Regions from separate parts of the Homo sapiens genome. Here all the other regions are linked to region 1. The links come from fine-mapping of genetic effects on gene expression. A gene starts in region 1. Each other region holds a variant in brackets. All regions are shown on one strand. Distances are from middle to middle. Region 1 holds the start of EBPL (EBP like). Region 2 has its middle 65 kb from the start of KPNA3. Region 3 overlaps KPNA3 (karyopherin subunit alpha 3).

Region 1 (10,149 bases):
GTTAGCTTTCCTCCCCATTTTAAGTTCCAACACCACCTCAGCTTGCCTCTCTCTTTTTTTTAAATGACTCCCCACACTACAGCAGTTGCTTTTTGTTGCTCTTCTTGCCCCTCAACTCCATCCTTTCCAATCCAACCTGCACCATGTTGAGAGACAATTCTCCATGAATATCTCACATCCTGCACTGTCTGGGTCTCTGAGCAAAGACATTTATATCAATTTTAAGAATGTTTCTATAATGAGCCTTTCCAGAGTAGTAAACCTGGGAGACAGCTCCCTCCAGAGAGGTTCTAGGGTGGTAAAGATCAAGACCTCACCTTCTCCTCCTCAGAGGTTTACATTCCTAAGATAAGGTCTCTCCAGAGAGAAGTATGGACAGGCCACCACCAGCTCACAATAAGATGGACGCGTAGTTCTGGAGTTCCTTTCTTGTAACGCATCCCACTGCATGTACAGGCAGTAACATCTGGCCTTCATTATGTTGTCCTGTGGGGTTTGGGCCTTGGGGAATCAAACTGGACTACCTTGTTAACTTCTAAGTTGGGTAAAATCTCGGACGCTAGAGTTTCTGACTTAACACATCACCACTAAATTATCTTTATGAAGATCTGCTTTGGCCACGTGACTTCCCTGCTTGAAATCCTTCAGTGGCTTCTCACTACAGAATACAATTCTTACCTGTCACCTTTCCAGCTGGTCCTCCCACTTCTTATGTAAACCCTGTGCTCCTGTCAATCTGGACTACAGGATGTGTTCCATACACAGGCATTCATATCTTGCCTCATGTTTCTGGCCATGCCTGAATGCTATACATAGATTGCAGAAGAGATAAAATTTTATCCATGAAGCACCAGTGCCTAGGCTGCCCACAGCGACCTCAGAATGGTGACCCCACCATTTCCTTCTTCTAGTATGTTGCCATGGCTCCTTCCAGGTAGGCTGATGGGAAGTCAGCCTGCCCTCTGCTGTAGTCATAACGAGCTGAACTGATGACCAGTGCTGGGGCCCAAGGTGACTGCACTCTGGTTGGACATCTGGGAAATGAACTGCCCCTGGGAATGCTTGGCTTGAAACTGTCCAACAGGATAGCTTTCAATTTGATGGCAGCCAAAAAACCTACAGAGCTCCTCTCTTTAAGAAGTGTCAGGGGGTGGCCAGGCGCAGTGGCTCACGCCTGTAATCCCAGCACTTTGGAAGGCCGAGGCAGGTAGATCACGAGGTCAGGAGATCGAGACCATCCTGGCTAATATGGTGAAACCCCGTCTCTACAAAAAATACAAAAAATTAGCCGGGCGTGGTGGCGGGTGCCTGTAGTCCCAGCTACTCAGGAGGCTGAGGCAGGAGAATGGCGTGAACCCGAGAGGCGGAGCTTGCAGCGAGCCGAGATTGCGCCACTGCACTCCAGTCTGGGTAATAGAGCGAGACTCCGTCTCAAAAAAAAAAAAAAAAAAAAAGAAGTGTCGGGTTAAGGAGAGGCAACTCATCTTCTAGTGAACAAGTGAGTTTTAATTTTGGTTCTCCCCTAAGCTCTACATCTTAGTCTTAGCTTGTCCCACACTTCTGGGTATTCTTGCAATAAACTCCCAAGCAAAGACAACATGGGCATGTATTTTCTTGCAGCCTCAACTGCTTAATTCAAGTGCTCTCCCCACTGATCTCTGAGACACATGTACAAAGACGTTGGTAGATGCATTGTTTGTAATGACAGAAAAATGTGTCCACTAATATGGGCTGGTTAAGTGATCGTATTCATCAAATATAAGATACATCCCAATTTAGAGACATTAAAATATCAATCAAATGGCCTACAGTAGTTACATGATGTAGTTGATTCTTCTAATATGTGAAAAAATGTGGGTCTTAGACTTGGAGAACTAAGGTATGGTGTATTCACACAGTGGACTACTTTGCAGCTGGGGTAGGTAATGGCACAAAAGGAGGTGTGTGTCGTGTTACCTGTAACAACCTGAGCTTGAAAAGTAAACAGTCTTAAACCAAGTGGTGAACACACGCATATAGTTTAAGTATTTTTACAGCTTTTTGTTTGTCTAAGGTATGTTAAACATTTTTCTTTTTTTTCCCAAGATAGAGTCTTGCTCTGTTGCCCAGGCTGGAGTGCAGTGGCTTGATCATGGCTCACTACAACCTCCACCTTCCAGGTTCAAGCAATTCTCCTGCCTCAGCCACCCGGGTAGCTGAGATTATGGGCACCGTCACCACACCTGGCTAATTTTTGTATATTTAGTACAGACGGGGTTTCACCATGTTGGCCAGGCTGGTCTTGAACTCCTGACCTCGTGATCCACCCGCCTCAGCCTCCCAAAATGCTGGGATTACAGGCATGAGCCACTGTGTCCGATATGTTATACATTTTTATATATATACATTCTGATATGCTATATACAGTTATACCCAGCCAATATGTTACACAGTTTTCTCTCACTGGGCCTAGCAACATTTTTGTTATGTTATACATTTTGTTATACATTTTTTCTAACCGGGCCTAGCAATCTGCTTTATCTCCCTTGTTCTGTGGGAAACCTTGTGTTCAAGTGATAGCTTAAAAATCAATTCTCGGCTGGTGGCGGTGGCGGTGGCTCACGCCTGTCATCCCAGCACTTTGGGAGGCCAAGGTGGGCAGATCATCTGATGTTAGGGGTTTGAGACCAGTCTGGCCAACATAGTGAAACCTCATCTCTACTAAAAACACAAAAATTAGCTGGGCGTGGTGACGGGCGCCCGTAATCCCAGCTACTCGGGAGGCTGAGGCAGGAGAATAGCTTTAACCCAAGGGGCGGAGGTTGCAGTGAGCCGAGATAGTGCCACTACACTCCAGCCTGGGCAACAGTGTTAGACTCTGTCTCAAGAACAACAACAAAAAAAAAGACAAAAAAAAAAAAAAAGAATTCTATAAATAAAGGAGTTGAGAGAAACATTCACTGTCCCTTATCTCTACATGTTGATTATCAGAATAAAAAGAATTCCAGCAACATCAGTCATGGGCACAAAGCCAACCCGTAAACATTTACAGAACTCGATGATTACCCAAAACTCGGCTTGCTTTCTCAATACTACTGACTTTGGCTTCACATTAGCCACAGGTGTGTCTAGAGTTAAACAAGGTCAACTTTACAAAAAAAAAAAAAAACAAACTGATACTTGGGCATAGTTTAAAAAAAACTTAAAAGTGTGTGTGTGTGTGTGCGTGCGCGTGTGTGGTGGGGGGCGGGGCATTTCAATATAAATGCCTTAAACACAACCTTCCTGGCTATTTTATAAAATGGGTTGAATCTCTAAGGACACATATTTCCTAAGACCTCGACTGATACACAGAGTGCAAACTTGGGAGCCAGACTAGACTGCCTCAGAATCATGCCAGCTGTGTGGCACTGGAAAGTCACCTAATTTTGCAGCGCCTACCTTCACCTCTGTAAAATGGGGAACAATAATAACTAATTTATGGATGCTGTAAAGATCTGAAATTTTAAACTCAGTAATGCGCCTGGCACACATTAGACACGGGTGTTTCGTTTGTCTTGGCAAAGGCTTCGGGTTTTGCGACAATAGCCTTGCTGCCTCCGGAGCAAGCATCTCTCCTTGCCCCCTCTGGGGCATTTAAAAATGACCTCAATTCTACTCTCAATTATGTCCAGTTCAACAGTTACGTGCAGGTTACAAAGCCGAGGAAGCTGAGGTATCTTCTAAACTAACATAGCACGTACAGAATTTTTTTAAAGTTTGGTGGAGGAATCGGCAGCACAAGGTAAGCTGCGCTCTGTTCACAGACCTGGGAATCAGAACTCCGGCCGCCGCGGCCTCCAGGCGCCTCTCAGCTAACAGACTTCCTGCAGCAGGGGGAGGGGCGGCCAGCTCGCTGCAAAAAGCCGCAGGACCCCCTCACCCCGCCTTGCCGCCCCCGCTCCCACTCTCTGGGATGGGGAGTGCAGGGTCTAGGCGATGGCACTTACCAGCGCGAAGTGCACCAGCGCGTCGTAGCAGAGCCAGATGAGCGCCCCGCGGTCCGCCGCCCCCTGCCCGCGGCCCAGGCGCAGGCCCAGGGCGCAGCCCGCCGCCAGCAGCGCGGCGCACAGCAGCAGCGAACCGCCAGCCTCGGCCCCCAGCTCCCACTCAGCGCCCATGCTTCAGGCTTCCGACGCCAACGGCCCAGGACCATGCGGCAGAGGAAAGCAGGGAGAGAAACGACGGGGCGGGGCTGGCCGGGAAGGGGCGGAGCCGGATGGCCAAGGAGGAGCGGAGCTGATTGGCCAAGGCGGTCCGGGGAGGGACGGGGCTCCCCGGCCGGGTCGGGGCCAGAGCGAGGATTCCGTGCCCGCCTCGCACCCTGGCCAGCCTGCTGAGTCCGGTGGTTTTGCCAGGTGCCGCCCATGGAGGTTCCGTAGAAGGAACGTGCTCACCAACTTGCGCAACCGCCTCGACCAAACCTGTTCCCAAACCGAGCCCAAAGGATTGGTAATAGGGCCACACCTTTTGATGTTGTTTCGCTTTTAACAAGGCTCAAACTTTAAGCCACAAAGTGAAGCCTAGGTAGTGGAAATTTTGCCAGTAGACCGGGGCAGAATTTTAGGGGCAAAAGGTTTTAATTAGGCTGCAGCAAGCCTTACCAGGGAGGCTGGGGGCCAAGGGAGTTTTCAGCCACCAGCCGGCTTAAAGCCTTTATGGCCTACTCTGACAATCTTTCCATTTCTTAAAAATCCAGAAAAGTAGAAGGGTGGGTGAGAGGAGCGGTAAGTCCTATTGGCTTGGCGATAGATGCGTTTAACCTGTGGCAGGCCAGGTTTCACTATCGCAGGCCTCCATCACAACTGCTTCAGCACTGAGTGGTTAAATTAAATATTAAAAGCTGAGGCCGGGCGCGGTGGCTCACGCCTGTAATCCCAGCACTTTTTGCCAAGGCGGGCGGATCACGAGGTCAGGAAATCGAGACCATCCTGGCTAACACGGCGAAACCACGTCTCTACTAAAAATACAAAAAATTAGCCGGGCGTGGTGACGGGCGCCTGTAGTCCCAGCTACTCCGGAGGCTGAGGCAGGAGAATGGCGTGAACCCGGGAGGCGGAGCTTGCAGTGAGCCGAGATCGCGCCACTGCACTCCAGCCTGGGCAACAGAGCGAGACTCCGTCTCAAAAAACAAAAAAAAAATTAAAAGCTGAAAGAGTCAGTGCCCATATACCAAAGTCTGGAATGTAACAAAAGCCCACCAAGAGTTTTGCCTAGGCCTTTCTTGGGCCTTGAAGCATGACAAGATAACTAAGGAATTTTTAACAGGACCCGTTTAGGATTAAACAAGTTTTATTGGGGGTCTGAAGAAACTCCCCAGGCCTCCAAAAACAAGTTTATTGGGAGTCTGGAGGAATTCCACAAGCCTCCATGATTTAGCAAGAGACAAAATAAGGGTAATCATCCCAGCACCCAGACCTATTTAGATTAAGTAAATTTACTGAGGCTCCAGAGGAAGGTCTTCAGGATTAGAAGTTGTTAATCACTTACGTCTTTAGATGAATGCACTCTTACACGTAGACATATAGCTTAGAAGGTATATACGCTCTGGAAAAACTTTGTAATTATGAGTTGGTCTGGCAATAATTTCCAGACCTTCTCCCTGTAACCGGTTGCAGAAATAAAAACTCTTCTTCCCCAGTTCATCTGCACCTCATTATTGGGCTGCCCAACCCCCAGTTTGGTCCGGGAACAAACCTACATTATTTAACATCACAACAACCCTATGAGGTCGGTGAAATAAGCCAGTCACAAAAACATACTTATGATTCCACTTACAGGAAATATCTAAAATAATCAATTTGCAGAAACAAAATAGAATGATGGTTACCAGGGGTGGGGCGGGGCGGGAGTGGGGGGGGGGCGCGGGGAAAAGTGGAGTGTTATTTATTCGGATAGTTTGATTTGCAAGATGATGTTCTGGAGATTGGTTGCACAACAACGTGAACATACTTTACTGAGCTGCACACTTAAAAATGGTTAAGATGGCAAATTTTATGTGTATTTTACAGTTATTAAAAAAAATGCTGGCACTGAACACAAGAAATTTTTCCCTTAGTCACTTCCTATACCATTTTTTATAGCAGTTAACACCAGATAGAATGATCCTTGTTTACACACTTATTGCTAATCTCCTGCCACTATAATGTAAGTCTTCAAGGCCAGGGGTTGTGGCTAGCTTTTTTATTGCTGTATCCCTGGCACCTATTACAGAGTTTGGCATATATTAGCTGCTCAGTTAAATAACTGGCGACTGAGTATGGTCAATCTAGCCACCTATGCTCTGGATCCTGTCCTGTAACTAACTTATCATCCTTTAGGGACCACTCGGCCCACCTCCCCTTCAGAGCAAAATAGAAACTTAATGAAAAAACTGATCAGATCCCCTGTCTTCATGTCTTGACCCTGCTCCTCAGTCCTTTCTACTCTGGTTTCTGCCTTATCACACTGATATAGCTCTCACTAAGGTGACTACTGGCCTCCACATCACTGAACCCCAAGAACAGTTCATTTTCTTAGTGTAGTTTACTTCTCAGCAGCATCCCAGCACTGAAATATTTTTCCTTTGGTTTTCTGAGAATACAGCCTCCTTAGCCATTCTGTTTCCTTTGCAAGTGCATCTTCCACTACAAATGCCTAGTGAATGCTGCAGCTCCACAACCCAGTCCTCGGCCCTGTTCTCACTCCAGACCCCAAATCCAGGCAGTCTCATCCTTACCCTCTGCTTTAATGACCAGCAAAACCTGCAGAGAACTCAAATCTCTAGCCTGGTCCTATTCTCTGGACTCCAGACCAGTATTTCCAACTGCCCTACTTGACAGTCACTTGGATGTCTCAATATAACCCAAACTGAGCTCATCACTTTCCACCCCAATGTCTGATTCTCCTTCCTATCTCATGTTACTTCCACTCATCAGTTACTACAACCCGGAAACCTAGAAATCATCCCCGATACTTCTCTCTCCCCAAACTTGGCATCTAAGGCATCACCAACTCCTCCTCAGCAGCCAAGTATTTCTTGATTCCATGCATTTCATGGACCTGTTCACCATCTCGTCTGTGCTTCACTCACTAATGTGACCAGCGACCTCTACATCACTAAATCCAAAGGACGTTTTCTGTCCTTAGCCTTACCAACTAGTGATCTTTATTAATCTATTATCCCTCTTGCTTAATGATGATCTTCATATAGAATACCAAAATCCTTTTTATGACTTACTAGACTGTGGGGTCTGGCCCCTCCCTATCTCTTTAGCCCTTTCCCATTCCCCTATTAATCCTCCTCTCCATTATAATCTTTCATCTAGCTATACTTGCTTTCTTTCACTTCCTCAAATACCCCATGGTGCTTCCCACAAGGCTTTGTACAGACTCTTCCCACTGCTGGAAAGCTTTTCCAGTCAATGTGCCCAATAAACTCCTGCCTTTTCACCACGATCAGTGAAATTTTGGCTGGCACTTTTTAAGGGCTCAACATTAGCCTGGTTATCACCTTTCTCAGTAGCCAATTTCCTCTAGTATGTGTATCATTGTATACCTCTTTTTTTCTAACATTTGTCAAAACTTGTCTTTTTTTTTATTCCTGTTATTTTTACAAGTATCCTGTGCCATAGCACAGTACCTGGCACGGGACAGAGTATTCAGTATTCGAATGTTTCTAAAGGCTTAGTCAGAATTCTTATTTATATAAGACTGAAGACATCGAAAGGATACATATGTAGAATGTGATCTCATGAGAAAAACTAGGCTGAAGTAAATATGAAATTTATTCTTATGTTTAGAGTTGAAAAGGGTAGATGCCCAACGATTTGGGTTAAAGAGAGCTGATGATAAAGAGGGTGTGACTTGATCACAAACCTAATTATGATGAAGCTGGTAAAATAACTGAAAGACTCCCCCCACATTAATAGAATCAAAAGTCCAGATAATGGAATGTTCCCATTCATTCCAAAGTACTCAGAAACCAGTCACACCACACTCCTTATTGTTGGAATCCTTGGAGTACATCACGCTGACAGGAACCAGGTCCAGCAATGACTTTATAATGAGAATGGATGAAATGCAAGGGGTGTTCGAGTAAAAGAAAGCTGATTTAAAAAATGGATGAGTCTCCTCTGCTATCTGGAAATAACAAAGTCTACTCCCAATCAAAAACAGTTAATTTACAATGATGGAAATTTAAGTTTCTTTCTCTTTTGAGACAGGGTCTCAACTCTGTGGCCCAGGCTGAAGTGCAGTGGCACGATCTCGGGTCCAGTGTATGGCAGCCTCAGCCTCCAAAGTAGCTGGGACTACAGGCATGTACCGCCAGGCCCAGCTATTTTATTTATTTATTTTTTTTGTAGAGATGAGGTCTCACTATATTGCCCAGGCTGGTGTCAAACTCCTGGGCTCAAGTGATCCACTGACCTGGGCCTCCCAAAGTGCTGGCATTACAGGTGTGGGCCACTGCACCCAGGTTAAGAAAGGATCTTGTAGCAAGCAAAGCTAGCCAATAAATACAAGCTCCCTCAAAATGAGTACCTTGTTTCTCAAGCTCTTCTAACTTACTCCTGCAGGAATGTTTCCATAAAATACCCTGCCTCAAAAATCAGATTTTATGTTTAAAATATGTAAAATGTATACTTTATAACACTTTGGCTTGTATTACCAATAAAACTTTTACTTACCACCTAGTAAAGTTGCTGTCCCACGAAAGTGTTCCTTATCTTATGGTTTCTCACACTATTTGGCACAAGGCCCCATGCATCTTTGGGTACCACAGTTTAAGGGAATTCCTCAAGAAGGTGTATGGCAATTTGCTAGGGTAGGGAAGGGGGATGCTGTAGAAGAAATTCCCTGCAGAGAATACTTTCTTTATGGCATGGCTCGGCCATAGTTTCTGTTTTTAATAATTTAATAGATGATTGTAAGTTTTCTGATGAGGCCAATCTCTCAACAATGCTTCAAGTGATCTTCAAACTATGCTATGATTTTCTAGTACAACTCCAGTTTTCCCTAGATAACTTAAAGATTTTCAACTACAAGTGTTTGAAAAACACTGCCATAGGGTGTTGAGATTTGGGCAATTAACACATTTGATTGTTTTACAACCCTGTTTTTTAGCCACAGGATAAATTTAAGAGGTAACTAGTTGCTCCATATTTCTATTTCTTTATCCCAAGTCCCTTGAAATAGATGTTCAGTACTACCTGGAGTTTCCTACAGATGATTTGGGAAATTAGGTTAGGCCTGCCTTCAATTTTTCCTAAAACTCAGAATGAAGAAAAGGCACATTTGTGTCTCCTTTCTTCATCTTATGCATCTGAGGAAAGCCTGGGACTGTTCATACAACAAAAAAGTCATGATTTAGGCTGTCTCATTTGAGTGGAGTTTTCTATAGGAATTGATTTAGGACAGTGGTTTACAATCAGGGATGGTTTTGGGCCCCCAGATGTTTGGCAATGTCTGGAGACATTTTTGGTTGTCTTAACTTGGGGAGAGGAGAGAGGTGCTACTGCTATCTAGTGAGTAGAGCCCAGGGATACTACTAAACATCCTACATTGCACAGGGCAGATGACACACAACAAAGAATTATCCAGCCAAAAATGTCAATAGTGCAGGGTTTAAAAAACCCCAATTTAGGCCAGGCGCTGTGGCTCCCGCCTGTAATCCTAGCATTTTGGGAGGCCGAGGCAGGCGGATCACTTGAGGTCAAGAGTTTGAGACCAGCCTGGCCAACATAGTGAAACTTGTCTCTACTAAAAATACAAAAATTAGGTGTGGTGGCAGGCGCCTGTAATCCTAGCTACTCGGGAGGCTGAGGCAGGAAAATCGCTTGAAACTGGAAGGCAGAGGTTGCAGTGGGTCATGCCACTGCACTCCAACCTGGGCTAAAGAGCGAAACTCCATCTCAAAAAACAAAAAAACAATTTAGGCCTAAGTTAGTTGAGGGATTTTATGGGCAAACAGTGGCATTAGGTTGCATTCCCACATCCCTTTTCCCACACATTGTATATAGCACTTTTGGAGAATCATTCTATCACTGTTTTTTAGCTATCTAAACAACATTTATACTCACAGCTTCATATACAGAAATTATATTTCCTTTCCCCCAAAAAGAGTTAAGTAAACTTTCCCAGTTTAACTAG
Region 2 (10,149 bases), 170 kb after region 1:
TCTTGGGTTTAAGCAATTCTGCTGCCTCAGCCTCCTGAGTAGCTGAGACTACAGGTGTGCACCACCACGACCAGCTGATTTTTGTATTTTTAGTAGAGACAGGGTTTCACTATATTGACTAGAATGGTCTTGATCTCTTGACTTCGTGATCCTCCCACCTCGGCCTCCCAAAGTGCTGGGATTACAGGTGTGAGCCACTGCGCCTGGCCTATTTATTTTTTTGAGATAAGAGTCTCGCTCTGTTGCCCAGGCTGGAGCCTGGTGGTGCAATCTCCACTCACTGCAACCTCCACCTCCTGAGTTCAAGCAATTCTCCTGGATTAGCCTCCCAAGTAAATGGGACCACAGGTGTGTGCCACCAGGCCCGACTAATTTTTGTAATTTTAGTAGAGATGGGGTTTCACCATGTTGGCCAGGCTGGTCTCGAACTCCTGACCTCAGGTGATCCACCTGCCTTGGCCTCCCAAAATGCTGGGATTACAGGCGTGAGCCACCATGCCCTGCCCATCCTCTATTTTTATATCCAGTTGGCCATTCAAAGATAAGGGCATGATAAAAAAAAATATTATCAGGCACAGAAGTTCTCAGAAGATTTACCACACAAAGGCTATGCTGAAAACTATTTTAGATGAAAGGCTTAAATAAAGGGAGAGTAAATCTAGTAGATACTGCCAGAGATATGTAAAGTAAAGATGACCAAGTACACCGGTAAAATTTCTTTGACTTAAAAGAATAGCCAAGACTAAAGAAAAAGAGAACTCATAGACACAATAATCTGGCATCAAAGTGTAGATAATAACATGATGTGGATTGGGGGCACAGAGATGAAGAGATGAGTGTATAAAGTTTTGTTCTTATGGGGGAAGAGATAGTTACCAATTTAAAGAAATGGTTAATAATATATATAGAAAAAGTGAGTCAGACTGAAAAAAAATAAAGTGGTAGAAACAGGTCCGAATAAATAATTACAATAAATATAAATGAACTAAACTCATCAGTTAAAGACAAAGATGGAAAAATGTGATATAACAAAAATTCAGGTATGTGCTATTAACAAGAGATAAAACTAAAGCATAAGGAATTGCAAAGACTCTAAGTAAATGAATAAAAAAGATATCAGTAAAATACTAATCAAAATAAAGCTGGTTTATCTACAGCAATATTAGATAAAATGGACTTAAAGGCAAAAAGATACATAGCATGTATGCATTTAATAAAGCAAAAGGTGGCCCAGGGTGATGGCTCACCCCTGTCATCCCAGCACTCTGGGAGGTTGAGGCAGGTAGATCACTTGAGTTCAGGAGTTTGAGACCAGCCTGGGCAACATGGCGAGAACCCCATCTCTGAAAAAAAAAAAAAATGCAAAACTTAGCCAGGTGTAGTGGTGCATGCCTGTAGTCCCAGCTACTTGGAAGGCTAACATGAGAGGATCATCTGAGCCTGGGGAAGTTGCAGTGAGCCATGATCATGCCACTGCACTCCAGTTGGTGATAAAAGAAAAAGATTGATAAATGTTGCTTTGTTAGAGAAAGTAAAAAGTTATATATAGAAGATATTCAAAACACATAAAACTGGCAAAGGACTGGTATCATAAAGAACTTCTGCAAATCAGTAAAAGAAAAAACACATAAGCAGCCCAATAGGAAAATGGGCCAAAAAAAGAACTGTTTTCACAGAAGAGAAAACACATGATCAATAAACATATGAAGAGATGTTTAACATAATTAGTAATTGGGAAGTATAAATTGAGACTACAGTCCGGGTGTGGTGGCTCACACCTATAATCCCAGCACTTTGGGAGGCCTAGGTGGGCGGATCACGAGGTCAGGAGATTGAGACCATCCTGGCTAACATGGTGAAACCCCGATTCTACTAAAAATACAAAAAAATTAGCTGGGTGTGGTGGCACGCACCTGTAGTCCCAGCTACTCAGGAGGCTGAGGCAGGAGAATGGTGTGAACCCGGGAGGCGGAGCTTGCAGTGAGCTGAGGTGGCGCCACTGCACTCCAGCCTGGGCAACAGAGCGAGATTCCGTCTCAAAAAAAAAAAAAAAAAAAATTGAGGCTACAATGGCACACAATTTTATACTCATTCATCTGGTAAAAATTTGAATGGTCTGATAACACCAAATCTTATCAATGCTGGTGAGAATGTAAAATTGTATAACTACTTTGGAAAAGTTTGACATTTTCTCCTAAATTTGGGCATTCATATACTATTATGGGTTGAATTTTGTCCCCTAGAATAAAATGTTAAAATTCTAACTCCTGGAACCTTCAATGTGATCTTATTTGAACTTTGCAGATGTGAGTAGCTAGGTTATAATGATGTCATACTGGGCCCTAAATTCAATAGGACTGGCATCCTTATAAGAAAAGAAGAGGCCAGGCACGGGTCTCATGCCTGTAATCTTAGCACTTCGGGAGGCTGAGGTGGGTGGATCACCTGAGGTTAGGAGTTCAAGACCAGCCTGGCCAACATGGTGAAACCCCATCTCTACTAAAAATACAAAAATTTGCCAGGTGTGGTGGCGGACGCCTGTAATCCCAGCTACTTGGGAGGCTGAGGCAGGAGAATTGCTTGAAACTGGGAGGCGGAGGTTGCAGTGAGCTGAGATTGCACCATTGCACTCCAGCCTGGGGGACAAGAGTGAGACTTCATCTCAAAAAAAAAAAAAAGAAGAAGAGGAGAGACAGAGACAGAAACACACAGAGGAGAAGACCATGTAAAGACAGAGATAGAAATTGGAGTGATGCATCTACAAGCCACGGGGTGTCCAGGGATGCTGGCAACCATCAGAAGCCGAGAGAGACATGGGACAGATTTTCCCTCAGAGGCTCCCATAGGGAACCAGCCCTGAGGACACTTACTGTGAGATAACACATTTCTGTTTTTTTGAGGCACCCAGTTTATGGTAATTTGTTAGAGCAGCTCTATGAAACTAATACACATACTCAATGACCCAACAATTCTACTCCTAGGTATAGACCCAACATAAACCATTTCATGTGTACAAGTGACTGCATAAGGAAGTTCACAGGATTTCAGTTCACAACAGCAAAAACCTGCAAAGAACCTAAAAGCCTAACTATAAAAGACAGAATAAATAAATTGTAGTAAATCCACGCAATGGAATGTTATTCAGCAGTCAACATGAATGAACTATAGCAATGAGGGGGTCTATCTGCAGACCCTGACCCAAACGATGGATGAATGAAGTACACTGACACACAGATATTCTGCTATGCCAGTCCAGCTGAGTGTCTGGGCCACTTACAGACTCCAAGCAGAGTGCTGTAAACAGTCACGACCATGGCCCTGACCAACTAGTGAGACTCGCATTTATTTAGTAAAGATGAATTGACAAAGGCTTGAGTCAACACCACCAGAGGGTAATTGACATTGTGGACTTCCTGTAGAAAGTAATTAAGCACCGGTGGTAGATCAAAGGTTAGTCTTAAACAACCTAGCTAGATACACTACTCTGCCTTCTTCCTTACCCACTTGAAGCTTTTTACTCAAGGTAAGGATTAGGTTGCCTTCAGCCATTGTCTTATCCTGAGACTTCTGTAAAAACCTTCAGGCCTTCCAAGAAAGTTTGTGTTTATTTTTATAACTATCTTTAATATTTTTCCCACCAGCCTGATTGAACTCCCACATAACAACACACAAAAATATGAGGAATCTTAACAATATAATAATAATAAATGAATCTAAAGAGTTTACATATTCTGCAATGCATTTTTAATAAAATTTATGACCAAGATAATAGTTCCTTTTTATGAATGCAAATACGTGCAATTCAACTATATGAAATGGAAGGCAAGGAAATTGTTTTTTTATTTTTTTGCAAACACTATGGTGACTTAAAGGCAAGGAAATTGTTAACATGGAATTCAGCAATATGGCTACCTTGAGTAGACAAAGGCAGAGGGACACGATGGGAAAAGCAACCATATGGTTAGATGTAGGTTGTTGTCAAGGTCTTAGTTTTTGCTTGAGATGGTGGGTTCATGAGTATTTATCTATGTCTACAGCTATGTTTATATGTATATTAACATAACAATATTTAATGGAGGAGGCCACTTAAGGACCACAGAGGAAAGTATGCCATAAATAGGATTAGAACTAATTCTTTTTTTTTTTTGTCTTGAGACAGAGTTTCACTCTTGTTGCCCAGGCTGGAGTGCAATGCCGCGATCTTGGCTCACTGTAACCTCCGCCTCCTGGGTTCAAGTGATTCTCCTGCCTCAGCCTCCCAAGTAGCTATGATTACTGGTGCCTGCCACCACACCCAGCTAATTTTTGTATTTTTAGTAGAGATGGGGTTTCACTATGTTGGCCAGGCTGGTCTTGAACTCCTGACCTCAGGTGATCCACCCGCCTTGGCCTCTCAAAGTGCTGGGATTACAGGTGTGTGCCAACGCATCTGGTAGATTAGAACTAATTCTAATCCAATCCTGTGCATCTGGGGCTAAACATCCCCCAAATTGTTGGGCTTTCCCAGATTTGTCCATGATTCTACAAACTGGTGCTTCTGGCTAATTCTGATTTTCACAAGGGTCTGGAAATTGGAATATTTTTTCCACGCTAACTCTATGACCTGCAGTGTGGCTAACCAATCTAGACCAAACATGCAGCTCTGGATTGTTCAGGATTTAGTGTGCCAATTTAGATAGAAAGCTCAATTAATTAAAATAAAGAAGCACAGAGACCAAAAGTTCATTGAGTTCAAGTAGAATCAGCTCAATGGGTGGGAAAAAGAAAAAAGAATCAGTTCCTATAAAAAAGGACAGCATAGTTGCTAGAACCCTCTAGAGATGTACAGATATTAGATAGTTTTGGCAGGAAGTGGTGGCCAAAATACATGAAACAACAACCTGAAAAAATAAGAGTTAATCAGGGATTACAGCAGGGATGAAAACAAACAAGCCAAAAAGCCACAGCAACAACAAAAACAGGTGGAAGATAACAGGAAAATCTAATCTTCACTGCCCATGGGCTGGAATGTAATGTTTTGGCTATGTTTTTCTTCTTCTTTTTTTTTTTTTTTTTTTTGAGACGGAGTTTCGCTCTGTCACCCAGGCTGGAGTGCAGTGGCGCGATCTTGGCTCACTGCAAGCTCCGCCTCCTGGGTTCACGCCATTCTCCTGCCTCAGCCTCCCGAGTAGCTGGGACTACAGGCGTCCGCCAACACGCCCGGCTAGTTTTTTGTATTTTTAGTAGAAATGGGATTTCACCGTGTTATCCAGGATGGTCTCGATCTCCTGACCTCGTGATCTGCCCACCTCGGCCCCCCAAAGTGCTGGGATTACAGGCGTGAGCCACCGCGCCCGGCCTTGGCTATGTTTTTCTTGGTAAACATCTCTACTATCTGCTTTTGAAATGATGGAGCTACCTTTCAGTTTTAAAAACAATATATTTCAGGCATCTCAAGTAATCCACAATCTGGAGGCAAAAGTCAAGACTGAGTTGACAGAGCACAAATCTGTTTCATTTGACTACATTAAAGAGGTTTGCATTCTTTCAAGGGCTTACTAGCGAGTTGTTCAGAAGCAGTACTGACACGGGGGCCTGGGATTGTTGAGGGATGCTTATGCACAGAGAGGAAGGTTTGCTAATCCAGGAGCACTGAATCATCATGATGTAAACTTGCAGGACTTCATGGCTTCAGTGATACATCATTGATCTTTAATTCCAGTCCACAGAACTTTTTTTTATGGTAAGGAAAAGGATATGGGAAGAAAAAAGTATTATAAGCATGTTTCTCATATTTCTTCCCTCTTTTACCCTATAAATAAAAGAGCAAAGGTATTACTGAGCAAATGTTCTCTTGAAAAACTTGATTTCTTCTTATGCTTGGAAATTTTGCTATAGAGATAGTCATTGCTACTGTTTACAGTAGACA[T/C]TCCAACCCTGAAAACTAAACTCTGAAGTATTTACTATGCTTAGATAAATCACATATTTGTCCTCATGAGTACAGCCTGTTCAGGTTTGTACATACCATTGCGTAATTCCCTAAGAACTCTTTCCAATTTAAAAGGATGACTTTGGACACCTTTGTGGAAGTTGATAGGAAAGATTTTTGCTCTTTAAAATACTTGTTAAATAGGCCAGTTAAAAGTATGCTTTGTACTGAATTTTGCCTTTATCAGTAAAGGCTCCAAGAATGTTGATAAAATAAGAGAAAAAGAAATTGGGCTTTTCTCCTGCCAGAATTGGAAGGGAGAGACCCAAAACTAAGAACGGAAAATCTGTCATAATAATGGCAGAATCCTCAAAAGAAGATACACAAATAAATGCAGCTGAGGAACCTGGAGACTTCCCTGGTTTCTGTCCCTTGTGAGACTTCAAATCATAAAATACCCTAATATCTTTCTGTAATCTTCTGTCATGTTCTAAAATGTCTAAAATATTGAAACAGTCCTTATTATCAGAAAAAAGTAATCATGAACAGAGCCCAGAATATGGTATAAAACATTACCTTACTGTTCTCATCATGTCATTGTTCAGTCCTACCTCCAAACAATGTCCCATGAGAAAACCCAGAAGACATCTCCCTCACTAAAGCATTGAGAAATGCATTAATAAATGGAGCACCTGCAACCTCTTTCAAAGGAGAGCTCTGTGGTTGCTCTCTTCTATAGGGTAGGTGGAAAATATGCCATTGACATGGTCTCCCCAATTTCAATGATGGGATGATGGGATCTCAGAGTGGCATAGGTAGGGGTGGCACTGAATCTCCAAGGACAAAGTAAATGCATCCACTGTAAAGGGCAATCAGAATGCTTTGGCCTGCAGACATATTTGATGGTGGTTAAGTTATGGTGTTCTTAGGAATGAAATAGATGGGCAATCTACCATTGTATTGCTTGATCTGTAACAGAGGGAAAAATTCTAGGTCTGGTAGCTAAAAACCTGATGAGTCACTGCAGTGGACAGTCATGGCCTCTTGTGTTGAGATCTAAGTCAATTCACAGAGCCAAAGCTCCTTGATTAAAGAGGAGGCTGGGAGCCAGGCACAGTGGCCCATGCCATCCCAGTGAGTCAGGAGGCTGAAGCAAGAGGATTGATTGCTTGAAGCCAGGAGTTTGACCTCAGACCCTACGAAAAAATTAATCTAAAATGTCGGGGCGCGGTGGCCCATGCCTCTAATCCGAGCACTTTGGGAGGCACAGGTGGGCAGATCACAAGGTCAGGAGTTTAAGACCAGCCTGGCCAACATGGTGAAACCCTGTCTCTCTAAAAATACAAAAATTAGCTGGGGATGGTGGCATGTGCATGTAATCCCAGCCACTTGGGAGGCTGAGGCAGGATAATTGCTTGAACTGGGACCCGGGAGGCGGAGGTTGCAGTGAGCCAAGATTGCACCACTGCACTCCAGCCTGGGCTACAGAGGGAGACACCATCTCAAAAAAAAAAAAAAAAAAAAAAAATCTAAAATGGATCATAGATCTAAATGTAAACCTAGAATTATAAATCTACTAGAAAAAATATAGGACAAAATCTGTGGGACCCTGGCATAAGCAAAGTTTTCTTAAGTAGAACACAAAAGAAGATATAAAAGAAATAGATGGGGCTTGGCATGGTGGCTAACATGTGTAATCCCAGCACTTTGGGAGGCCAAGGTGGGCTGACCACCTGAGGTCAGGAATTCGAGACCAGCCTGGCCAACATGGTGAAACCCCATCTCTACTAAAAAAAAATTAGCCGGGCATGGTGGCACATGCCTGTAATTCCAGCTACTCAGGAGGCTGAGGCAGGAGAATTGCCTGAAGCTGGGAGGTGGAGGTTGCAGTGAGCCGAGATCACACCACTGAACTCCAGCCTGGGCCACAGAAGAAAATTCCATCTAAAAAAAAAAAAAAGAAAAAAAAGAAAAAGAAATAGGTAATCAGTTGGGCTTCATCAACATTTAAAACATTTCTCTTTGAAAGTCAGTTAAGAAAATGAAAGTCAGCTAGGTGTGGTGGCTTACGCCTATAATCCCAGCACTTTGGAAGGCCAAGGCAGGAGGATCACTTGAGCTCAGGATTTCGAGACCATCCTACGCAACAGAGCAAGACCCCACCTCTAGAAAAAATTTTAAAAATTAGCCAGGCAGGGTTGTGCGTGCCTATAGTCGTAGCTATTTGGAAGGCTGAGGTGGGAGGATCACTTGAGCAAAATCAAAACTGATTTTCATTAAATCTCAAAGTAATCTGTTGACTGAAAGAAACCAAACAAAGATATATATTGTATTATTTCACTTATATGAAATTCTTGAAAATAAAAACTAACTTATGTAGCTAGACTGCAGATCAGTGGTTGCCTGGGGACAGGTTAAAAAGTGCAATGAACTGCAGACAGGTATGAGAAAACCTTCAATGGCAATGGAAATGTTCAGCATCTTGTTTGTGGAGATGGTTTCATAGTTACATATGTTTACCAAAACTTATCAAATAGTGAACTTCAAATATATGCAGTTTATTATTCAAAATTATACTTCAATAAAGTTGTGAAAATGGGAGCGGGGAAGCAACAAATACTGGTGTGAGTCAACAGCATGAACCATATCACCTTTTCTCATTTTCCAGAAGTATGCTGAGTTCCTTGGTCAGCCAAAATAACCACCCTCTCGCCCATATGAGAGGATCTTCCTTGTCCATTTTCCCCCATAGTACCTGTCATTTTTTTTTTTTCTGCTGCTATAACAAAGGACCACAGATTGGGTCACTCATAAAGAAAAGAAGTTTAGGCCAGGCACAGTGGCTCACACCTGTAATCCCAGCACTCTGGGAGGCCGAGGAAGGATTGCTTGAGCCCAGAAGTTCAAGACCAGCCTGGGCAACATGATGAGACCCTGTCTCTACAAAAAATACAAAAATTAGCTGGGCATGGTGGTGTGTGCCCATAGTCTCAGCTACTTGGGAGGCTGAGGAGGGAGGATTGCTTGAGCCAGGGAGGTTGAGGCTGCAGTGAGCTGTGATTGTGCCACTGTACCCCAACCTGGGCAACAAAGCAAGACCCCATCTGAAAGAGAAAGAGAGAGAGAGGGGATAAAAAAGAGAAAGAAAGAAAAGAAAAGAAAAGAAAAGAAAAGCTTACTTGGTGTTGCGGGAAGTCAGGGACCCTGAATGGAGAGACTGACTGGAGCTACGGCAGAGGAACATAAATTGTGGAGATTTCTTCTTAATATGGACATTTATCAGTTCCCAAATAATACTATTATAATTTCTTATGTCTGTCTTTAATCTCTTTAAACTTTAATCTCTTAATCCTGTTATCTTGCTCACTGCAAGCTCTGCCTCCTGGGTTCACGCCATTCTCCTGCCTCAGCCTCCCGAGTAGCTGGGACTACAGGTGCTTGCCACCATGCCCAGCTAATTTTTTTCTTTTTGTATTTTTAGTAGAGACGGGGTTTCACTGTGTTAGCCAGGATGGTCTTGATCTCCCGGCCTCATGATCCACCTGCCTCGGCCTTCTGAAGTGCTGGGATTATAGGCATGAGCCACAGCGCCCGGCCTGATCAGAACATTTTTTAATGAAAGGATCTAGAAAGCAACTTGGAAGTGTAAATAGTCACCTTCATTTTCTCTAACTTGATCAAGACTAGTGGGTCCATGGCCCTGTGTTAGTTCATGCATTCATCTCAGACCCAAATGAAAGTTTCAACTCCCAAAATGCAGTTCCTTAGATGCTCGTCTGGACGTGATGACGTGCCCGCCATATAAGAAGGTGCAATCATAGGTATCACAGGTAGCCAGATAGAAGACATTTTTTTCTCCCAAAATTATTCCTTGGAGTGGGGAGTGATATGGGGGAAGAGCTCCCATCTTAAGGGGCACACACTGAGTTGCTTATGCTACTTCCTTGTTCAAAATGAAGTAACTGCCTTAATCTAAAAAAAGAAAAGAATATTTACAACACTGAAAATGAATGAACTACGATTTATGTATAGCATGGATGAATTTCATAAACATTGGACAAAAGAATCCAGACACAAAATAGTGGTTGCCTTTGGGCAATATAGAAGGGTGCAAGTGGAAGTAGCCTCAAGAAGTTTTCTGGGGTGCTGGTAAGGTTCTATTTTCTAAACTATGTGGTGATTAAATATGTGTATTCACTGTGTGGTAATTAATCAAACTGTTTACTTTTTTTTTTTTTGAG
Region 3 (10,149 bases), 30 kb after region 1:
GTTGCAGTGAGCCTAGATCGCGCCACTGCACTCCAGCCTGGGTGACAGAGCAAGACTCCATCTCGGAAAAAAAAGAAAAAAAAAAAAAAAAGAATCAAAGACTCTGCAAATTAACTCCTTAGCGAACGTATTAGGTTATTATCTACATGTATTCTCTTAAACCTCCATGTATTCTTGAGTTCTTAATATCTTCCCCCGTGTTCTTGAAATGACTTTCTCTCAACCTGTGAAAATCCTATTCATCCTAGTTATATGACATGAGACAAATTACTTAAGTACCTCTGCTTCTTTTACAACGTTTGTAGATGATGGAGATAATGAGAGTACCAATCTCACAAGAATTTTGTAAGAATTAAATGGGTTAACATAGCAAAAGTGCTTAAAACAGTGCCTGGCAGATTTTAAACTCAATAAATGGTAACTATGAACACTATAATCTTTGACTCTGTCCCCACTTCTGTCTCCTTATAATGCTCGTCTCAAATGTTACTTTGTCAACGAAGCTTTCTGCTTCGCTAGCAAAATTATCTGTGCTTCCATAATAAAGCACTTTGGTCACTGCTCTATCTTACCTTTTTTCTTGTTGGCTTTCATACCATGTTTTATGTTTATGTGCTTATGGTATGATTTTTTTTTTCACTGTGAGCCTATGGATTATACTGAATATGTGATCATGGTATGAAAAAGCACAGGCCTTGGACCTGGCTTCAGTTCTCAGGTATGGCTCTCATTCATTGCATGACCTTAGAAAGATTATTTAACTTTACCGAGTTTCAATCTCTGTATTTGTAAAATAGAAGAATAAAACTTATCTTACAAGGATACTGGTAAGATAAAAGGAGTCTACAGAGAGATCCAGCACAGCAATTTCTTGACATAAGTTCTTTCCTTTTAACTCTTTTTACATCTTTAATGTTAAGGTCTTAGAAGGCATGGTCTCTTTATGTCTTATCACTGAGTGTACAATTCATGGCACAATTCTGGCTTTAAGTGGAATAATTTGTGAGTGTTTGCTAAACTTGACTAATATACCTGTAACTACAGTACACTGCCACTTTAATACCCCAGCTTTCACATAAACACAACCAACAGATGGTGAAAGCTTTTATTTGCCTATAATTAATTCTATAATGTTCTGGGGGAAAGTCCTGAGGCAAACAGCAGATATTTTGCTTATTCCCCTTTTAATCTTTGCTGTCAGAAAGCTTACAACTAAACTTACCTTTCAACAGCAACAACTAAACTTCTGTATAAATTTTACTTTTTCCTTTACAGATATTATCTTATATGTCTTTTGTTAAGTCACTTTATATCCATTTTGGAAATAAGACGGCATATAAACATGTTTTACTTCATTTTAATGACATTTTAGGCTGTGTCAAACACGAAGTGACTTTAGCTACCTTTAAAAGATTCCATCCTGAGAGCTTAAAATCTGCAAATGAGCTAGAGTAATGTGATACAATTTTTATATACAAATTATATTGCCTTGTGAGAAAGGTAAGCAAAGATGTATTTCTTTGTCCCAATGATAAATTACACACAATTCACAATTCTGCCACACATATACACATATGTATGTACATGTTATGTGTATGTAGATAAAGATTACAAAAACACAAATATACAACAAATCAGAAAGAGATGTTAGTTAGAATAAAAGAAACTGGATCAACACTAGTCACCGAAATTTATCCACTGTTTTACTCCATGGAAAAGTAACAATTTACCTTACTGCATTTAGGAGAATTTTCAGATTGCCTAGATAGTATCAAACTTGCCAGAACGTTGACAGTAAATGCTTCACTAAATCTGAATATAATGAAAAAAAATCACCTAAAAATGCCTTGCATTTAAAACTATATATTCTTCTATACTATATCTAAAAAGACTGTAGCATAAAAAGGCAGCATGGTTTTGTGACAAGTACCCAAGACCTGTTATGAGAAGACTTTAATTTGAATATTGACTCTGACCCTTACTAGCTCTTCCACTTTAGATAAGTCATTTAATCTCTCTCTGAGAGTCCGTTTCTTCTTATTCTATAAAATGGGGGGAATAATATCTAGCCTATCTGTTGTAAGAACCAGTGAGATTTTTTTTAAAAAGTAAGGTGTTTCATGAGGTTTTACCGCTTTACAAATATTAAGGTTTAAAAACACTACTTAATAATGACAGAAATAAACTACATATGCAGTAATTTCTCAAAAGTGAGCATTTTTGCTGTCTGGCTGTTACTGCTTACAGATTTAAGCTATAAACCTAATTTAAGCTTAATCCTATTTCTGAAAACTGTAAATACGTTGTAGAAACTTGACAAGTTGATAAAATGTATGCTGACACTTACATAAAAACCCTTTCTGTCCCATCAAGAGCAAAATCCCACATTTAAGCTGCTTCTTAACTTACGTTTATATCTGTATGGTATATGAGGACACATAAAGCTGGCAAAATCTGAGGAAAGAAAATAAACAATACTTAACATTAGTTAATTAATATGTCTGTAAAAATGAACAACTTTGACATAAAAAGCGGTAAATATGGTTTGTAGGGCGAGAAAGACAATGTTAAATTTGTCTGAATATCTTTTAGGAAAATGAAAACCTGATAAATTCAATCTAAAAAAACCAAAAACATATCTCAAATGTTAAACTGAAATATGTTCAATTAACAAGTTAAAATATCCAAATAAATCTGGCAGAAGTTAATGTACCTTAAAATAAAAACATTTGTTTTTAATAACCTTCTTTATGGCATAAAATGTCAAGTGGAAAAAATGGAGATGCAAATATACAGTTACAGCTATTTAAGAAAAGCTACACTTAAAACTGCCGTAATTGTCTCACTTACCTGCTTAACGTAAAAATACGATTTTACTTAATAAGCTACTTAAGTCAAATTAAAGTTTTCAACTTCACCTTTAGTCAAGAAAATTCGAACCAGTACAAAGTACAAAGCTTTGCTTGTTAAATTCAGGCCCCAGAGATCTCTTTTTAAAATATGGGAGAAAGGGAGCAGGGGGTTGTAGGAAATCACACAAAATACCTTTGCATAGCAACAAAAAGTAGCAGGTACTAGAGAAAGATGTCCATTATAAAGATACACAGTTGGCCAAGTGTGGTGGCTCATGCTTGTAATCCCACCACTTTGGGAGGGTGAGGTGGGTGGACTGCTTGATGCCAGGAGTTCAAGACCAGCTGGCCAACATGGTGAAAACCCATTTCTACTAAAAATACAAAAATTAGCCTGGCATGGTGGCACATGCCTGAGACATGAGAATCGCTTGAACCCCGGATGTGGAGGCTGCAGTGGGCAAAGATTGTGCCACTGCACTCCAGCCTGGGAAACAGAGCGAGACTGTCTCAAAAAAAAAAAAAAAAAAAAGAGATAACACAGTCAACAGTGAATAAAGGTTATGTAGGATTTTTTTTTAAAATGCAAAGCACAAGGATCTATTTACATATCAAATGTAAATAAAAAAGTTTTTACTTTGTTTTAATTAGTAGATTTAACAAAAAATATGTCACACTTTTAAGAACTCCAATTTTGTCAGTAATAAATTGGAGTTAGGCCGTGGGGGCAGTGGCTCACACCTGTAATCCCAGCACTTTGGGATACTGAGGTGAGCAGATCACTTCAGGTCAGGAGTTTGAGACCAGCCTGGCCTACACAGTGAAACCCCATCTCTACTAAAAATACAAAAACTAGCCGGGTGTGGTGGCGCTGGCCTGTAATCCCAGCTACTCAGGAGGCTGAGGCACGAGACTCGCTTGAACCCAGGAGGCAGAGGCTGCAGTGAGCTGAGATCATGCCACTGCACTCCAGCCTGGGCAATAGAACAAGACTGTCTCAAAAGAAGAAGAAGAAGAAAAAAAATCAATTGGACTTAAAGCAAACTCATTCAAGAACATTTGCATGTAAGTATACTAGTTTTGCCTGTAGCAACCCCCTTTTATAGCTTTAAACCAACAATGCAATACAGTAATAAAACTTTGAGATTGTTTTCCTTTTGTATTTTTCTCTCTGAATTTTTATATTTTCTTTTTATGCAGATAATCAAAAAAATAGGCATTAGGATGAACTGACATTCTTTCAGGTACAGTAAGACACTCAACTTTTATTTCATAGGAGTAATTAAATATGGTACGTTACTTTTAAAATCTTACACCTGTGGCTGGGCGTGGTGGCTCAGGCCTGTCATCCCAGCACTTTGGGAGGCCGAGGCGGGCAGATCACGAGGTCAGGAGGTCGAGACCATCCTGGCTAACATGGTGAAACCCCGTCTGTACTAAAAATACAAAAAAATTAGCCAGGCGTGGTGGCGGGTGCCTGTAGTCCCAGCTACTCAGGAGGCTGAGGCAGGAGAATGGCGTGAACCCAGGAAGTGGAGCTTGCCGTGAGCCAAGATCGCGCCACTGCACTCCAGCCTGGGCGACAGAGCAAGACTCCGTTATCAAACAAACAAACAAACAAAAAACTCACACCTGCAATGAAATCAGTATATGTATTATTTTGTCCCCTGTATATGAATTCCTGAAGTACAAACATAGGGAAAATATACCATCTGGCCTTTACAATTCTTCATTTACCTCCTGAACTGTCTCCATAGGCGGCGGGGGATCCTTATTCCTGCAGAGATTGACAATGACCCATGTGACGTTCCGAAGGAAGGTGATGGGGATGGAGGGACTGATGAAGGACAGAAGAGGTTTGACAACTCCCAGTGATATGACATAATCTCTACATTGAGGACCATCACCTACAGAAATGAAAATTATATTTAAAAAAAACTTACATTCAGGATGAGAAAGTCTGAAATGTATGCAATGGCTCATGTGGGAACACTGACGTTCTATGTTTCCTCACCATTAGTCAAAGGCATCAAGTGTTGTTTCTCCAGATTTTGATCTGGGGAACGTAAATTTAACCTACCAATGCTAACAGCAAACTGTATATCCTTTTCAAAGAGCATCATCTTAAGTCAGTACTTATGAGGCAAGAAGAGAGTCAACACACATTAAATTCAGAGGAAACATAGTATGTAATGGCTATGCCAATGTAGGAAAAAAGTTAATTTAGATTCTTAAGAGGATTCCTTTCAAACCACTTACCTATAATGTTTCCCAAAGCCCATACTGCTTGTTCACAAACATTCTGATGTGGTGAACGAAGAAGTCTCAGAAAAAGAGGTACTGCATCTGTAATAAAGAAAAACTAATATTTATACTAGCAACATGTTGAAGAGTTTACAGATTTCAGATCAAAGAAATTGATCAAATACACAGCCTGGCATATTGTAGCTGGAAGAACAAATGTGGCAAATATCTTTACCCTAAAAAGAATCAATTTCAGTATTTTCCCCTAGTAATAGTCAAGTACCGTAACCAACTGGCAGTATCTAAAGGTTGCTATCATACCATTAACTAAAAGAAAGCAACAGCATGAAATCCTTCCTATAATCCAT[T/TA]AAAAAAAAAAAAAAAAAAAAAAGAGTTCCTACCCCAAACATGTAACCTTAAAATGTAATGCTTTAGTCTACAAAATCTCAATTCCTGATACGGGGATTAACCAAAGAACTGATTAATCTCATATCAGGTCTATCTTATACTTTAAAATAATTTCTCATAATCCTTACTCTTTACAGAATGTATACATTATACCCATTTCCAGCATAAGCTAGATCACTTTTTAAAAATTTCAATCAACTGTGCACTACCTCATTTTTTTTTTTTTGCTGTATCTGTGTATTACTTGTATTATTTACTTAAAATTTAAATTAATTCAGTTTTAACAACTTTACGGAGATATAATTACAATAAATTTACATTTAAGTGTGTAATTCAATGACATTTCATATTTATACAGAGTTGTGAGGACATCGCCACAATCTAATTTTATAACATTTCCAGGACCTCAAAAGAAATCTTGGCTGGGTATGATGGCTCATGCCTGTAATCCTAACACTCTGGGAGGCCGAGGCAGATGGATCACCAGGTCAGGAGTTCAAGACCAGCCTGGCCAAGATGGTGAAACCCTGTCTCTACTAAAAATATAAAAATTAGCCGGGCGTGGTGGTGGGCGCCTGTAATCCCAGCTACTTTGGAGGCTGAGGCAGAGAACTGCTTGAACCAGGGAGACGGAGGTTGCAGTGAGCCAAGATCGTGCCACTGCACTCCAGCCTGGGTGACAGAGCAAGACTCTGTCTCAAAAAAAAAAAATATCATACTCAGCCGGGCACAGTGGCTCACACCTATAATCTCAGCACTTTGGGAAGCGAGGCGGGCAGATCACGAGGTCAAGAGGTTGAGACCATCCTGGCCAACATAGTGAAACCCCGTCTCTACTAAAAATACAAAAATTAGCTGGACATGGTGGTGTGTGCCTGTAGTCCCAGCTACTTGGGAGGGTGAGGCAGGAGAATTGCTTGAACCCAGGAGACGGAAGTTGCAGTGAGCTGAGATCACGCCACTGCACTCCAGCCTGGCGACAGAGCGAGACTCCGTCTTAAAAAAAAAAAAAAAAGAAAAGAAAAAAGAAAAAAGAAATCTCATACTTAAGGCAGTCATTCCACATTTGTTCCTCTGCCACACATTCCCCAAGCGGCAGGCAACCATTAAATATCTGCTTTCTGTCTTTACAGATTTGCCTATTCTGGACATTTCATACAAATGAAATCATACTGTGTTTTTTGGGGGGTCTGACTTCACTTAACATTCTTCAGGTTCATCCATGTGGTAACAGGTATTGGTACTTCATTCTTTTTTACTGCTGAATTGTATTCCATTGTATACACCACATTCACTTTATCCACTCCTCGGTTAATGAACATTTGGGTTAGTTATGAATAACATTGCTGTGAATATTTATGTACAAGTGTTTGTATGAATATGTTTTCATATCTCTTGGTTTCACCTAGGAGTAGAACTGCTGGGTCACATGATAACTTTTTTTTTTTTTTTGAGGTGGAGTCTCGCTTTGTCACCCAGGCTGGAGTGCAGCGGCACGATCTCGGCTCACTGCAAGCTCCGCCTCCCGGGTTCACGCCATTCTCCCGCCTCAGCCTCCCAAGCAGCTGGGACTACAGGCGCCCGCCACCATGCCCGGCTAATTTTGTTTTTGTATTTTTAGTAGAGACAGGGTTTCACCATGTTAGCAAGGATGGTCTTGATCTCCTGACCTCGTGATCCACCCGCCTCGGCCTCCCAAAGTGCTGGGATTACAGGCTTGAGCCACTGCACCCAGCCTTTGTTTTTGAGATAGGGTCTCACTCTGTCGCCGGGGCTGGAATGCAGTGTGCAGTCTCGGCTCACTGCAACCTCTGCCTCCCTGGCTCAAGCGATCCTCTCGCCTCTGTCTCCTGAGTAGGTGCGACTATAGGCATGCGCCACCATGCAATGCTAATTTTTAAATATTTTGTAGAGACACGATTTTGTCATGTCACCTAGGCTGTTCTTGAACTCCTGAACTCAAGTGATCTGCTTGCCTTAGCCTCCCAAAGTGCTGGGATTAGAGGCATGAGCCACCTGTGGGTCTGGTGAGAATAGTATTCTCAATACATGATTCAATGTAACTTACTGCCATATCACATGCTACTTAAAATCACCTTGATTACCACACCTAAAATTAGCTAAGTGTCCCATACTATAATAACGTACGTGGTGATATCTAGTACTTTTCTAAAGAGCTTGTGTCAGTGTCATTTAACAATAATTATTAGCCCATCTTGAGGAAAGTAAAATTTAAAATATGTCATAAGCTAAAAGGCAGAAGCCATTCAGCATCTTGAAGATATCAGAAACGGAATTTAAAATCCTGTTATCACAGCATGATGTCTACTCCAAAAGATAAAACTCTACTCTTCTTTTAATAACCACAATTAAAAATTTTTCATGATAAATTAATGACGGCTATGAAAAAGATATCGGTCATCAAAAGTAACTTATAAAAGTCATCATTTAAAAAATGTTACAAGATAAAATTTCTTTATTACAAAACTCTACTTCCTTGCCATCATTAAAACACAAAAAGTTCAGACAGTAAGGAATTTACTTACTAGACTGCACAACAGCTTGAGTCTGTGCAGAAGTTCCTGATGCTATGTTAGTTAATGCCCAAGCAGCTTCAAACTGTAATGAAGGACTGTAAAAAAACAATAACACATCTTTTTAGACACATAACTACCACTTAAATTAATGAATCTTAAGACTGATAAGATATGGCTATTCTTTGCCTTGTCCTTGAATTTCACCTTGTTATAATCCAATTGCCTGCTAGCCAACCCTACTTTTTTTTTTTTTTTGAGATGGAGTCTCCCTCCATCACCCAGGCGGGAGTGCAGTGGCGCCATCTTGACTCATTGCAATCTCTGCCTCTGGGGTTCAAGTGATTCTCGTCTCCACCTCCCAAGTAGCTGGGATTACAGGTGCACATCACCACACCTGGCTCATTTTTGTACTTTTAGTAGAGATAGGGTTTCACTATGTTGGCCAGGCTGGTCCTGAACCCCTGACTTCAGGTGATCTGCCCACCTCGGCTTCCCAAAGTGCTGGGATTATAGGCATGAGCCACTGCACCCAGCAGCCATCTCTACTTAAAAAATCTCTTTGGCTCCCAAAGCCAGTCACTATGAACCTGCTTCTTTATGTCCACTGGTATTACAACATTTAGCCAGTCATTATTTCCCTTGACTTCGACTTCCTCTCCACAGACACATCTAATCAATATATCATGTCGATTTTACCTCTTAAACATTTCTTACATTTATATAATCACCCCTAATATCAAGTGCTAGTTGAGGCCCTCATCATCTCACTTTAACCACTATCACACGCTCTAGGCTGGTCTTAAAGCTAGAACCCCATCTGTCTCCATTACACCATCTGCTTTACATACTAGGGATATTACAAGGCTGTATAATTTTGTTGAAAAAACAAGATCATTATATTTTCGAATAGTAATGGAAGACCTCACAAAGAAAGTGACAACTGAACTAGCTTTTCAAAGATGGATTTAAAAAGAAAGGCAGTGACAGTGGGAAATAAAACAGGTATCATGCATGGAAGGATCATGATGTGTAGGAACGACAAGGATTAGATCAAGAGAGCTGAAACTAACTAAGAAGCAAGTAACAGGGTGTTTGTGCATGTGTGTGTGTGTTTCAGGATGGGAGTGAGGAGTGTATTCTACAGATATGCTAAGGATGGGGCATTGAAAAAGGGAGGAAAGAAAATAATGTTCAAATCAATGGTATGCAGAATGGCTAAAAAAGGTTAAAGGCTGATATAGGAGAGACCTATTAAAAGACATGTTGGGGCTTACACCTGTAGTCCCAGCACTTTGGGAGGCTGAGGCAGGCAGATCGCTTGAGCCAAAAAGTTCGAAACCAGCCTGGGCAACACGGTGAGACCCCATTTTTACAAAAAATAAAAAAATCAGCCAGATGTGGTGGTACACACCTGTAGTCCCAGCTACTTGGGATGCTGGGCGGGGGTGGGATGGGGGGATTGCTTGAGCCTAGGAGTTTGAGGATTCAATGAGCTGTGATTGTGTCACTGCACTCCAGCCTGGGTGACAGAGTGAAACCCTGTCACAAAAAAGACATAAAGGAAAGACCTGTTAAAAGGAAATGATAGATATTAAGTTAGGATAGCTGAAAGAGTACAAATTCCCTTAAGTGGAATACCAAGGATTGGGGGGATTTAGTCAGCAAAAATTAAGATTAGACAAAGGTTAGGGAGTTTGAAGAAAAGCCTATAAACAGGGAAGAGAGCAAGCAAGGTTGTTAGTATCAAAAGGTTAAAGAAGTCCGGGCAAGGTGGTTCACACCTGTAACCCCAGCACTTTGGGAGGCCAAGGCAGATGGATCACCTGAGGTCGGGAGTTTGAAACCAGCCTGGCCAACATGGCAAAACCCCCTCTCTACTAAAAATACAAAAATTAGCTGGACATGATGGTGCGTGCCTATAATCCCAGCTGCTCGGGAGGCTGAGGCAGGAGAATCCCTTGAACCCAGGAGGCGGAGGTTGTGGTGAGCTGAGATTGCACCACTGCACTCCAGCCTGGGCGACAGAGAGAGATTCCATCTCAAAAAAAAAAAAAAAAGAAAGAAAAAAGAGAAAAAAGGTTGAAGAGATCCAAGAACAAAAGGTTTTA

Evidence for each region.
Region 2: its variant is fine-mapped to the expression of EBPL in fibroblasts (GTEx, PIP above 0.99).
Region 3: its variant is fine-mapped to the expression of EBPL in monocytes (BLUEPRINT, PIP 0.95).

What each region holds. Positions count from the first base shown.
Region 1 is chr13:49,687,286-49,697,434 of GRCh38, forward strand. It overlaps EBPL (EBP like), which reads right to left and starts at 4,201. Exons shown (of 4, transcript NM_032565.5): 1 at 3,969-4,201. The coding sequence starts at 4,139. RefSeq lists an enhancer at 3,496-4,493 and silencers at 3,957-4,096, 4,127-4,326.
Region 2 is chr13:49,852,756-49,862,904 of GRCh38, forward strand. No RefSeq gene overlaps it. Among named protein-coding and RNA genes, the nearest start is that of KPNA3, 65 kb to the left of the region's middle. The variant T/C (reference allele first, on the strand shown) is at 5,909.
Region 3 is chr13:49,717,366-49,727,514 of GRCh38, forward strand. KPNA3 (karyopherin subunit alpha 3) reads right to left here. Exons shown (of 17, transcript NM_002267.4): 7 at 8,051-8,136; 8 at 5,112-5,198; 9 at 4,590-4,759; 10 at 2,410-2,454. Among named protein-coding and RNA genes, the nearest start is that of EBPL, 31 kb to the left of the region's middle. RefSeq lists an enhancer at 7,174-7,674. The variant T/TA (reference allele first, on the strand shown) is at 5,465.